Homo sapiens: one gene and its partners. The protein of the gene in region 3 purifies or fractionates together with the protein of the main gene of each other region. This does not show direct contact. Each region holds a gene or a part of one and is shown on either strand. Other genes may lie near its edges.

Region 1 (3,646 bases), on a different chromosome or scaffold from region 3:
AGATTGGCATTGAGGGTGTCAAGACAACAGAGCCAGGACTCTAGCCTGGGCCTCTGGACTCCCTGTCCAGTGCTGTCTCCCTGCTGTGGCCTCTCAGGCCCCTAGCGCCCTCCATGGCCTTTTCTCCTGCAGATCCAGAGAAATGCCTACTCCATCTTCTTTGATGAGAAGTTCTCCATCCCCCTGGATCCCACAGCCCTGGAGGAGAAGAGCCTGCGGTTTTCTGTATTTGGCATCGATGAGGATGAGCGCAACGTCAGCACGGGGGTGGTGGAGCTGAAGCTTTCTGTGCTTGACCTCCCGCTGCAGCCCTTCAGTGGCTGGCTCTATTTACAGGACCAGAACAAGGTAAGTGACTTGCCTGCTCGTCCACCTCGGAAGAGCGTGCACACACATACACTTCCAGGAAGGGACTCCATCATCCTCATCATCCTCTGCAATAGCCTGAGCCCCATCATCATTAGGAGAGCAGAGAAGAAGACCTGAGCCACATCCGAGGAAACTGCTTGCTGCAGGCAAATTTCAAAAACATCCCGACCACTGTTTACAGCTCGTCTGCTGCTTTGCCACCAAAGCTTCAGAGGTTCTACCCCTACTGAGCTTCTGCTAGAGAAACATTCCTCTAGCCTTAGAGGGGATGATTTCAGACAGACACCAAGCTGCACTTTAGTTTTATAATTGTAGGAATGCTCACAGAACATCATTGTTGTTTAATCAAAGAATCTAATTCCATTCCACTCTGATCGCTGTGTATTACTACCGCAGTGTTTTCCTTGGCCTGCAATGAGGGAACGAAACTACATTTGATAGCTACATTTGACAGGCCGCCTCTGACCCTCCGCCCCAGGCAGGACCCTCCCGGTGGAAGGGAGGAGTGGGGCATGCTCCATGCAGTGGCGGGGGGTGGGTGGCTGTCCCTTTCTCCAGGCTGTCCCTGCCTGCCTGGAGCCCTGTGGTAAGGGGCCCCCAGTGCAGCCACTTCTCTATGGAGAAGGAAGCCCCAGCCTTTCCCTGGCAACCAAGGCTTTCCCTGGACCCCTCAAGTCGGGTGGGGAGAAGCCCTCTGAGCCACCTGTCTGTCCCCCAGGCCGCCGATGCTGTGGGGGAGATCCTGCTCTCCCTCAGCTACCTCCCCACAGCCGAGCGCCTCACCGTGGTCGTGGTTAAGGCCAAGAACCTCATCTGGACCAACGACAAGACCACAGCGGGTAAGGCCCAGCCGGCAGCCCGGCTCCTCCACGTAGCTCAGTGGAAGCTGTGGCCCAGCTGCTGTGCTGTGGGCACCCGGAGGCATCGGCAGGTGTGGGACACAGTGCCAAGGTCCCCCTCAGCTTTGCTGAGCCCAGAAGTCATGCAGATGGATAGGGGGTGGCATGGGGACAATTAATCCAGCCGGGGAAACATGAGATCCCTGGAGGGTGGCAGGGGCCCCTGTGAGGGCAGAGTGAAGGGGGTCAGAGTGATGCGGGGGTCTCAGGGCAGGAGGCCGCACTCAGGGCTGGGGGCACTGGGCAGGGAACCAAGGTGGGCATCTGTTCCCTGGAACTGGAATTCATGGTGGAGACTCCATTCCCAGAGACAGGGCAGTATCCCAGACTCCAAAAAGGGACCAGGGCCACGGGGTTGGGGTGGGTGCCAGGCAGGACCCGATGCCTTAGGTCTGCAGGAGTCCCCAGTCCCTCTCAAAGCAGTGACCGTGGAGGCAGCTGTATTCTAGAGAACTGAAGACCAGGGGCTGGGGGAGCCTGATCTATTGGGAGTTGCAAGCCTTGGGGCGGGGGTAGGTGGGGGGGGCAGCTCCAGGCAGGTGCGGCAAGGACACCCCGTGGGCAATAGGTGATGGGCAGACGGCAAGTTGTTATTTCAGAGCCGCACACGGTTGAGTCAGGCTCTGCTGTGCGGGTGCCCGGTGACTCAGGGCTGACGTCTGCACTCGGGCCATTTATAGAAGGAACACGGTGGGGCTGCTGAGTTCCCCAGAGCATCCTAGGAGGGGAGCGCGTGGGCTGTGAGGCAGCTGCCTGAGCACAAAGCCCAGCCCTCACCTGACGTGCTGTGTGAGCCTCAGTTTTCTCATCTGTGAAATGGGAAAAATAATAAAGGACCAATGGCAGGGCTGCAGGAGGTCACAGCAACAGTTAAGCATTGGGGAGTTTGGAGTCGGTGGGTGGAGCCAAACTGGGCAGGGCTGTGGTGAGTGAGTGTGACACTGGCCCTCACCTGTCCGCCTGCCCACAGACCCCTTCGTCAAGGTGTACCTGCTGCAGGATGGGAGGAAGATGAGCAAAAAGAAGACAGCCGTGAAGAGGGATGACCCCAACCCGGTGTTCAACGAAGCCATGATCTTCTCGGTGCCAGCCATTGTGCTCCAGGTGAGGGGGGCTGGGGGATGGGAAGGGGCCAGGTCACCCCAGGGCTCTGGGGCTGCCGCATCTCTCCACCTTCTCTTCTCAGGGCCCCTGCAGGGGTAGTGGTTTGCCTCCAGCCATCACTTTCTAGCAGTTATTGAGTGCCACTGGGGCCAGCCCTAGGGTGGGTGCTGGGGACACAGGCATGGCTTTCTCGGTGCTCACAAGGGACAGGCAGGAGAGTCCCTAATCCACTAAGAGTGTCCTCAGGTGAGGGGGGATTCCTGCAGGAGGGGATACCCAGCTCTGAGGGAGGACCATTCCTGGTGGAGGGAACTGCAGAGGGTTGGAGAGGAGCTGGGGTGAGCCAGGCACCCAGAGTTCCTGCTCTGAATCTCCCAAGCTCCATTTCAGGGTTCTGCTGAACTCCCCAGGTTCGCGTGGTCTTCAGAAGGTGACATGCTCCAGGGAGACCTCTCCCAGCAGGGACATCACAGACCACGGGTGGGGCTTGAAGATAGGGCTTGGGCCCTGCTTGCATGCCTCGGAGGATGGGGCTCGCACCACCTTCCCTCACTATCTCTAGCCCTCCTCGGCACTCCTGACAATGAGAAAGTCCTTTGTGCCTTGAGCCAAAACCTGCCTCCATAGCCCCAGGGCTGTACAGAACCCGCCTAATCTCCCCCAACCCGGGGACCCCGCCAGCATGTAAAGGCCCAGAATCTGCCTCACTCTGAGTGTTCCTAACCCGGGCACACCCCAGCATCTCTGGCCCATCCTGGGTATCGTAGCCTTCACCTGCCACCCTCGTGGAGCAGGCTGCCCATGTGTCCTCTGCCTCTCCCTGGGTGTCATAGTGCCACTTCTCCACAGCCTCTAAAAGCAAGAGACTTCTTGGGACCATGGGGGAAGTGGAGGAGGAGAGAGATCGGGCTGGGTTTGAGTTTCAGCTCCCGCTCTCATCTCAAGCAGTCTCTCCCGTCCTCGGTTGTGAGTGCAACGTGGTGATATTAGTAATAGCAACGCAACCTCTAGCATGTTCTGACTGTGCGCAGGTGCCGTTCTACACAGTTCACTCTTTTTGTTCCTGAAACAGCCCTATGAGATAGAAACCAATTTTTTTTTTTTTGAGACAGAGTCTCACTCTGTTGCCCAAGCTGGAGTGCAATGGTGTGAACTCAGCTCACTGCAACCTCCGCCTCCTGGGTTCAAATGATTCTTCTGCCTCAGCTTCCTGAGTAGCTGGGATTACAGGCACCTGCCACCACACCTGGCTAATTTTTGTATTTTTAGTAGAG
Region 2 (3,646 bases), on a different chromosome or scaffold from region 3:
GCTGTCAATGCAGATGGCTTTTCTTATTAAAGCTCCTCTCCCCAAGCTCCTTAAAGACTCTTAATGGATTTCCATATTTCTAAATGTCATTTCAGTTTACTTCTTAATAAGCCCTTTACACCCTCTGTTCATTCCTTAGACAAGCCAAGGGTTTGCAGCCATTAAAAAAAATTATTTAAATCATCTTTGAAAATGTAAATCTCATCCTTCACTAAGGAAAGACCCACAATATCCAACGATTGGAAATAATGTCATTCAATTTACAGAAAACCGAGTAACTTCCCACACATTTTCATTTGCTAGGATTTCCTAAATCATTCCATCCTTTTGGACCTCCTGCATTTTTTGGAAACTGCTAAGAATTTGTTGTGAAATGAGGCAAGGCATGCAGTAACAACCTGCACTTTCTCATTTGACCCTTAATGCTTTGATTCCATTGACGATCATGAAAATTAAATGGTGAGCAATGATCTTTGCAGGCTCGTACCCATTTCTGTAAGGCAACCCCATTTCTCTCACGCTGCTTTTATGCCCTTGGCTTTCCCCATCCATTCCCCAAGGCCTCCCTCTAGGCAAACACTCACAGCTTTTGCGAAGACCCCCATAAGTTCCGGGAACTGATGTGTCAGGAGGGCCAGCATGGCTGTGAAGGAACATAATCCAGCAGTAAAGAGAATAAAGAAGGGAAGCTCCTTCTTTGGGTAAACTGAGACTTCATGGAAAGCTGTGGAGAAGACCAAAAGGGAAATATCAGGGCTGGAGTAAACTGCACTCTCAGGGGAGGTCTTTATGGTGGCACTGACTCCAGAGCTTGGGAAAGAGTTGGAAGCCTATGGGAAATGAAAAAATAGCACACCTGACAAACCATAGCCAACATCTGACCCAGCCTTTGGAGGCCCATCTGCTGGTCGCAAGTCTCCATCCAGCCTTCAGCACTCTAAATTGAGGCAGGAGGGGGCTGATTTGAGGGTGTCACGCCTTCATGGGAGGGAAGAGGAGCACCGCCTATGCCTAATGTATAGTATTTTTTTCTCAAAAGCAAACACAGCTGAAACAATTTGTAATTTACTCAAATTACAAAACACGTGTTCATTGTACAAAACCTGGAAAATCCAAAACCGAGTATACAGGGAAAAAAGGTATCCCGTCTATATTTTTTCCTTCCTGTATTTAAAAAATCATTATAATGAGATGATACTAGTTTCTCCTGTATTTTTTCCTGGCACCCTCTAAGTATATCAGTGGAGGGTGCCACCCTCATAGAGAGATATCCAGCAAGGACCTCACATGTAGGTCTATTCAAACTGCAAGGAGGGAAGGTCAAGACTGCTAGGGTTATCTGGCACAATTGTAAGAGACTCTTGATGACAAATACACTTCCAACAATCATCAAAAAAACAAGAAAAGCTGGTGCTCTTTAGAGTGCCCTCTATAATTTTTATATTATATTTCAAACATTGGGTTTGGGAAAACCAAAAAGCTGTGGTACAGAGGTCAAGAGAATCGCCTCCTTCTCTGTGCTCATGATGAGGCTGCCTGAGAGACTGCCTGGGTCGATGGGGCGGGCCTGCAGGAGGAGAAAGAGCCACCTGCTGGGGGTGCTGGGGGAGAGGCTGTGAAACTGCACGTGAGAAACAGCCCACTCTAACCAAGAGGACCAGAGGGCTCCATGGTCCTCAGGGAATACAAGATCTAGAGGCCTTTCCTCTACCATTCAGCTCCTATTCCTCAGAGTCTTCAACAGTAATCCACAAGGCTAATACTGAGGGTGGAGGGAATCCAGGAGGAACTCCATGCAGACGAATATGCCTACTACATCCAGGTAGGTCAGCCTGCTGGGATTCAAACACACGGAACAAGTGTGCTCAGGGCCTCGTGTGGCTATAATTATACTTTTAATGTGCAAATTATGGGTAGCACTTAAAACAACCTACCTTCTTCATATCCTCACCCTTAACATCCAACCAAAAAAGATTTTGGAGGGAGACCAGACTTGGAGCACTGCATTCAATTAATGTGAGCCATAATTTCCTATTTCAGGCTTATAAAGATTATCCCTATAAGGTTTCTCTTAAGAACTGTAATCTTGTTCTAATAACTAATCTATCCCCATGGAAACTTAATTGGACTCGATTAAAACATTTAAAAATACTGTACTTTTCAGAAAACTGCCTTTCTTACCAGAAAACCGAAACTTAACAAGGATCTCCCTGAAGGGGGAGTTGAAAGGTAAACTATGGGCCCACGGTGAGGATTTCTGAAATCAAATCTAATGTGTGAGGTACCAGACTCTTTTCACAATCAAACTCGAACGGTGAGAAACACATCACGGGGATCTCCCAGTTCCCTGAGTAACAAATCTCGCACTGGGTCTGGCTGGCAGGAAGGCAAGTGAGCAACTCCTGCTACCTCAATCTGATGACAGCCATTGAGTTCTGCACCCAGATCCCACCATGCTGGAGATTCATGACTGGCTTGATGATGCTGGTGTTTGGAAATTTACTATGCACCCAGGGCTCTAAGGTTACACTGTTCCTCTGGGGAAAGTACTTATATGTTACAGCTATAAGATATTGATATAACTGGGGCTGGTGAAAGGGCAGAGATGGCAGGAGAGAGGACAGAGAAGGGAGAAGAGCTAAAATTTGGAGCTTATTATCTGAGGGAGAAAAATATATCCTAAGTCTGGGCCACATGAAGAGCCTGACATGATCCTTGTACATAGTATGATTTGATAATAACCATTTAGCCTGAATTGTCAAAACAATGTTGTATTACAGCAAAGCAAAATAATATTTTCCACATGTGGTATGGGTCATTAGACTGCTAGCAAGTGTAAGGTAGTCGAGGGCAGGGTTTTCTTTTGTGTGCTTTCATACAGTGCTGAGGCTACACGTGTGCTCTGCACATGGTACTCCGAGTCACTACATGCAACCCACGAGGTGCTCACGGGAAATCCCTCTTGCCAGAGCACAGCCTCACCACACAGCACACTGCCCTGCCCCACAACTCCACATCTGGCCATGGTGCCAGCTTCCTGGTGCTGGCCTCCCACCCATGACTCATGCGCAGCTCCCTCTCAGTCAGCAGCTCCTCTTCAAACTCCGGTCGGTGCAGACCACATCTGTCCAGCTGAAGAGCCCAGGCAGAACCCTCACAATGGACCAGCCCAGCAGACACCAGCCCAAACCAGGGGTCTCTGTGCTCAGGCCAATCAGTACATAGGGTTTCTTCAGCTACATTTCAATCCTTTGGCATCTTTCCCTTTGATAAATTTGGAGAGACTTGGAGGAAAAGGAAGCCAAACCCACTCACATAATTCACTTTAATACATATGCTATCAAACAAGGACAGGGGTTTGGAGAAAAGTAATAAAAGACAAGGAGCATTCTAAACTTTGATATTCCCACCTCTTCCAATCCCCACCTTTCACCACACACCCTCACTGGCTGAAGAGAGGTGAGACTTACATGGAAGCAGCTCTCGGTCTGCTGTTTCTGTACAGATTGGGTAAGGATAAAATAGGTGCCCCTTTTCCAAGGGATAAGGGATCATCCGAAAAGCTGAAAACGAGAAAAAATATGTCAGAGATGTCCAATGTTTGTGTCATAACTTCCCAACTGCAAAAAGGGGCGTTTGAGCATTT
Region 3 (3,746 bases):
ATTAATTGCTCCGACTGCTCCTCCAAGACCTACCTCTGTAAAGCTCCTCCTTGAAGGGCACAACCTCATCTCTCTTCCACTCCCAGGAAGGCAGGCTGGAAACCTAATAGAGACTCCCTAAGAAACCTGCATTCTATCTTTCCCTGACCATTCAATTTCCGTACTTCCACCAGAGCCCAACTTCTATCAGACAAACTCCATGCTATCTGCATGCTAACTCCATGGATAATCTGCATGAAAAGGGGGGAAAGAGACAAAATCATGTTACAAAACTTGGGCAAGGGTCTAGACTCAACTTGCTTTGAAAGATCTTAAATCTTCCCATTCATTTGTAGACAGCAGTGGGCCTTTTTCTTCCTCTGCTCTGCACGACCTTCTAGCCCAAGTGCTAGTATCACCTTTTCCTAAAGACTTTTAAGACAAACTGTGACCATTTATGTCTACATGACACAGTTTCAGGATAACAAAGTGTGAAGACACACAAAGACGTCAAACATTTATCAGAGACCTAAGCGAAACGCCAATAAATGTTACAGGGATCAAGAATATGGTTACTGACATTGAATGTATCCTGTGGCTTTGAAGAATCCAAAGGATGATTCTCGAATAATGTATCCTTCCAAATTCTCCAGAAGTTCTAAGTTTAGACATCATAATGAAATGTCACCACGTTCCTCTGCCAGAAGTTGTTCAGTACTGAGGGGCTAATGATGCTTTCGCTTAAAGCCGATTCCCCCAATAAAGGGTGCCAAGGCTTTTCTGAAGCCCTGCTTCCGGCTGGCGACTTTGAAGCTGAGACGCAGGTTCACGCGCAGTTTCCGAAGACCTATTCCGTCCCCACCCTCCTCCCCTTCCTCGGAGACACCTCCACTTAACACTGCCTTCTCAGTCCCTCGCCGCCTGTTTAAACACAACTTCCACCCCTCACAAATCAGAAAGCTGTAATTTCAAAGTTTCAGAAACGTTTTCGGAAAGCCTCCTCCAATGGGAAGCGACTTCGCCGCTGAGTTAAGCGTCCGAATCCTCCTTCCCGCGGCAGGGACACCGGCCCGGGCCAGGTCTGCGGAGGACGCCCCCGGGCGCGCACACACAGCCCGAGGACGCGCCCTGTATTTTAAGACGCAGGGTCGGATTTCACCCCGAAACTTGGCTCCCACAGCCCCAGGCCGAACTGTGTCTGGTTCTCAGCCCCCGAGCCCGAGTTCTACGCCGCAAAGAGATGGGGCCCCATTGTGCCTAGCTGGCCTCCTAGCACGGACGTGTATTTTCTTTTGGTCTGTCTTTTGCTAAAAACCGGCAGTGCGCTTCGCCTCCCTGCCCAGCCGCAGCCTGCCGTCCCCTAGACAAAAAGCGGCGACCGCGGCCCGGCCACCCGAGCCCCGCCGCGCTGCGCCTTTGTTGGGCGGTCCACAGATGGTGCCCAGCACGGGGCCGCGCCGAGGGCGGGGGCGGGAGGCCGCGAAGAGGGTCGGGCGGGAGGGGAGGAGACGGCGGAGCAGCCAATCCGCGCGCGGCCCATCAGCTGACCGCCTTTGCTTACACCAGGTGCACGCCGGCTGCGGGGAGCACAAAGCGGGGCGCACCGCGGGCGCCGGCAACGAGCCGGTGAACGAGGCGAGGCCCGTGCGCCCGCGGCTGCAAGCGCCCGCCTGGCGGGGAGAGGGGCCGACGGCGTCAGCCCGGGCGGCGGCATCCCTAGGCGCCTGGGGCGCCTTCCTCCGGACCTGGCCGCTCGCTGCCCCGCCCTCTGCACCCCACTTCTCCGACCCTCCTTCCCAGTCCTGCCTCCCCCTGCCCTGGCCTCTGAGAGCCGACTGAGCCCAGCCCCGTGCAGCAGCGGTTGCCTGTGTCGCCGCCTAGTCTCCGGTCTTGGTGCTCTCCCGGGGGTGCCCCAAGGAGCCAGTGCGCGCTGCGGGCTGGGAAGGAGGCGCCGCTCAGCTAGTCCTCCTCCTCCTCCTCGTCTTTCTCCTCCTCCTGCTGCTGCTGCCGCCGCCGCCGCCGTGGGTGCCGGGTCCGCGCGCACCCCAACACCCCCACCAGCTGGGCCTCGGGGTAAGTCCCTGGCCGGCCGCGCCGCGGCAGGAGGTGTGGGAGGCAGCGAGGGGAAGTCGAGGCAAACTTGGTGGCGTGGGAGACCCTACGGGGTCTGGGGAACCTCAGGGTAAGATCGCGGGCCTGAGGGGGACGAGGGGGCGCGGCTCACGGAGCTGGGGAAAATGACGAAGTCGGGAAACGAGAATATAGTGCCCCGTTTCCCCCCGTCCCCCTTGCCAAAAAAAAAAAAAAAAAGGTGTGGGAGAGCGATAGTTGGGAAGGCAGGCCAGATAGAAACAGGCAAAAAAAGGCAGTGACCGGAGCCGAGCCTGCTGGATTTCAGGGGCCGACCAGGGGAGGGAGGTGCCCGGGGACGGGGAGGGAGGAGGGCTGCCGGGATGTGAACCGGGGAAGGCAGCTGGGGCTGGAGAGCAGCGCGGAAAGGGGGCCCAGGGAGCTGGAAAGAGGGCCAAGAGGAGGGCAAGGAAGGTGGCGGGCGACGGGGAGAGGAAAGAAAAAGGGTGTCTTGGCGGTGGCCTTGGTAAGAGAAAGGGGCAAGGGGTATAATTGACAAGGCACTGAAAGTATTGAAGTCAGAGCCTTGGGAAGGATCTACCGAACTCTCGGCGGTCCACGCGGGGACAGACCTCAGCCCGTGAGCCTTGAGCTCCACGCGGGGACAGACCTCAGCCCGTGAGCCTTGAGCTCCACGCGGGGACAGACCTCAGCCCGTGAGCCTTGAGCTCCACGCGGGGACAGACCTCAGCCCGTGAGCCTTGAGCTCCACGCGGGGACAGACCTCAGCCCGTGAGCCTTGAGCTCCACGCGGGGACAGACCTCAGCCCGTGAGCCTTGAGCCCAGAAGGAGTGGCAGCCTCAGGACGTTTGCCAGGTGGCCTGGAATGTGAGGGAAGCCTCAGCCCCGCCAGGAACAGAGCTGGCGCTGAGTTCCCGGCTCGGCCCGGGTCAGAAGCGAGGAAAGTTTGCCGGCGAGTGTCCTTTGTGCTGCGTGGAGAGGGGTGTGGGCGGCCGCCGACTCGGCGCTTCCCCGCCGCCCGCCCAGGGAGTCCCTGCCTGGCAAGCTGGGGCTCGGGGAAAAGTCCAGCAGCGAGAGGGCCGCGTGTCCCGGGACGGTTCCAGGGGAGCCCGCGCGGAAACGCGGACCAGGCGCTTCGGCCCGGATGCCGGATCCAGGAGAAGGGGACCTCGCTTGCCGTGTCCACCGCCGCGGCCCCAGCGCCAAGAACAGAGCCTGGCCGTGAGTGAACGACTGGCCGGGGTACAAATGGTTCTGAAGCACTTGAAGCTCACAGGCAAAGGCTAAGAGTCTAAATCCCATCCCGCCGTAAGTATTTTCATTCCCAAACCTAAATCGTAAAGGAAAAGTGGAATTCTAATTGGGTGAGGGAACAGGTGCTGCCGACTCTGGCTTTTGCGTGGAGGATTTTCTAAAAGACAACATGTTTTGTTTTGTCTTGCCATGACAATCTAAATCATGTTAGTGGAATAGGCTCATTATTTCATTTTTAAAAGCTAGGGCTGGAGGAGTGGAAAGTTCAGGAAGGCACTTTGATCAGTATAAATCTAGAGTAAAAGTGTTATTGGCTCCAGGGCCATATGTGTCCCGAAGTCTCTGATTTGCATGCAAATGTGAGCGGATCCTGGCAGATGTCTGGCCTCATCCATTCACATGAAGGAATTTGAAAAGACAA

What was found.
Region 1: the proteins of LRRN1 (region 3) and SYT12 purify together in Homo sapiens (co-immunoprecipitation; one large-scale study listed by IntAct). This does not show direct contact.
Region 2: the proteins of LRRN1 (region 3) and ST7 purify together in Homo sapiens (affinity purification with mass spectrometry; one large-scale study listed by BioGRID and IntAct). This does not show direct contact.

What each region holds. Positions count from the first base shown.
Region 1 is NC_000011.10:67,043,506-67,047,151, forward strand, and holds part of SYT12 (synaptotagmin-12), read left to right. Parts: intron 1-132; coding exon 133-348; intron 349-1,087; coding exon 1,088-1,208; intron 1,209-2,137; exon of another isoform or gene 2,138-2,203; intron 2,204-2,238; coding exon 2,239-2,372; intron 2,373-3,646. UniProt on the Homo sapiens protein: Synaptic vesicle phosphoprotein that enhances spontaneous neurotransmitter release but does not effect induced neurotransmitter release. Unlike other synaptotagmins, it does not bind Ca(2+) or phospholipids.
Region 2 is NC_000007.14:117,219,001-117,222,646, reverse strand, and holds part of ST7 (suppressor of tumorigenicity 7 protein), read right to left. Parts: intron 3,564-3,646; coding exon 3,471-3,563; intron 725-3,470; coding exon 585-724; intron 1-584. UniProt on the Homo sapiens protein: May act as a tumor suppressor.
Region 3 is NC_000003.12:3,797,868-3,801,613, forward strand, and holds the start of LRRN1 (leucine-rich repeat neuronal protein 1 precursor), read left to right. Parts: upstream 1-1,563; 5' UTR 1,564-2,052; intron 2,053-2,833; exon of another isoform or gene 2,834-3,008; intron 3,009-3,097; exon of another isoform or gene 3,098-3,379; intron 3,380-3,746.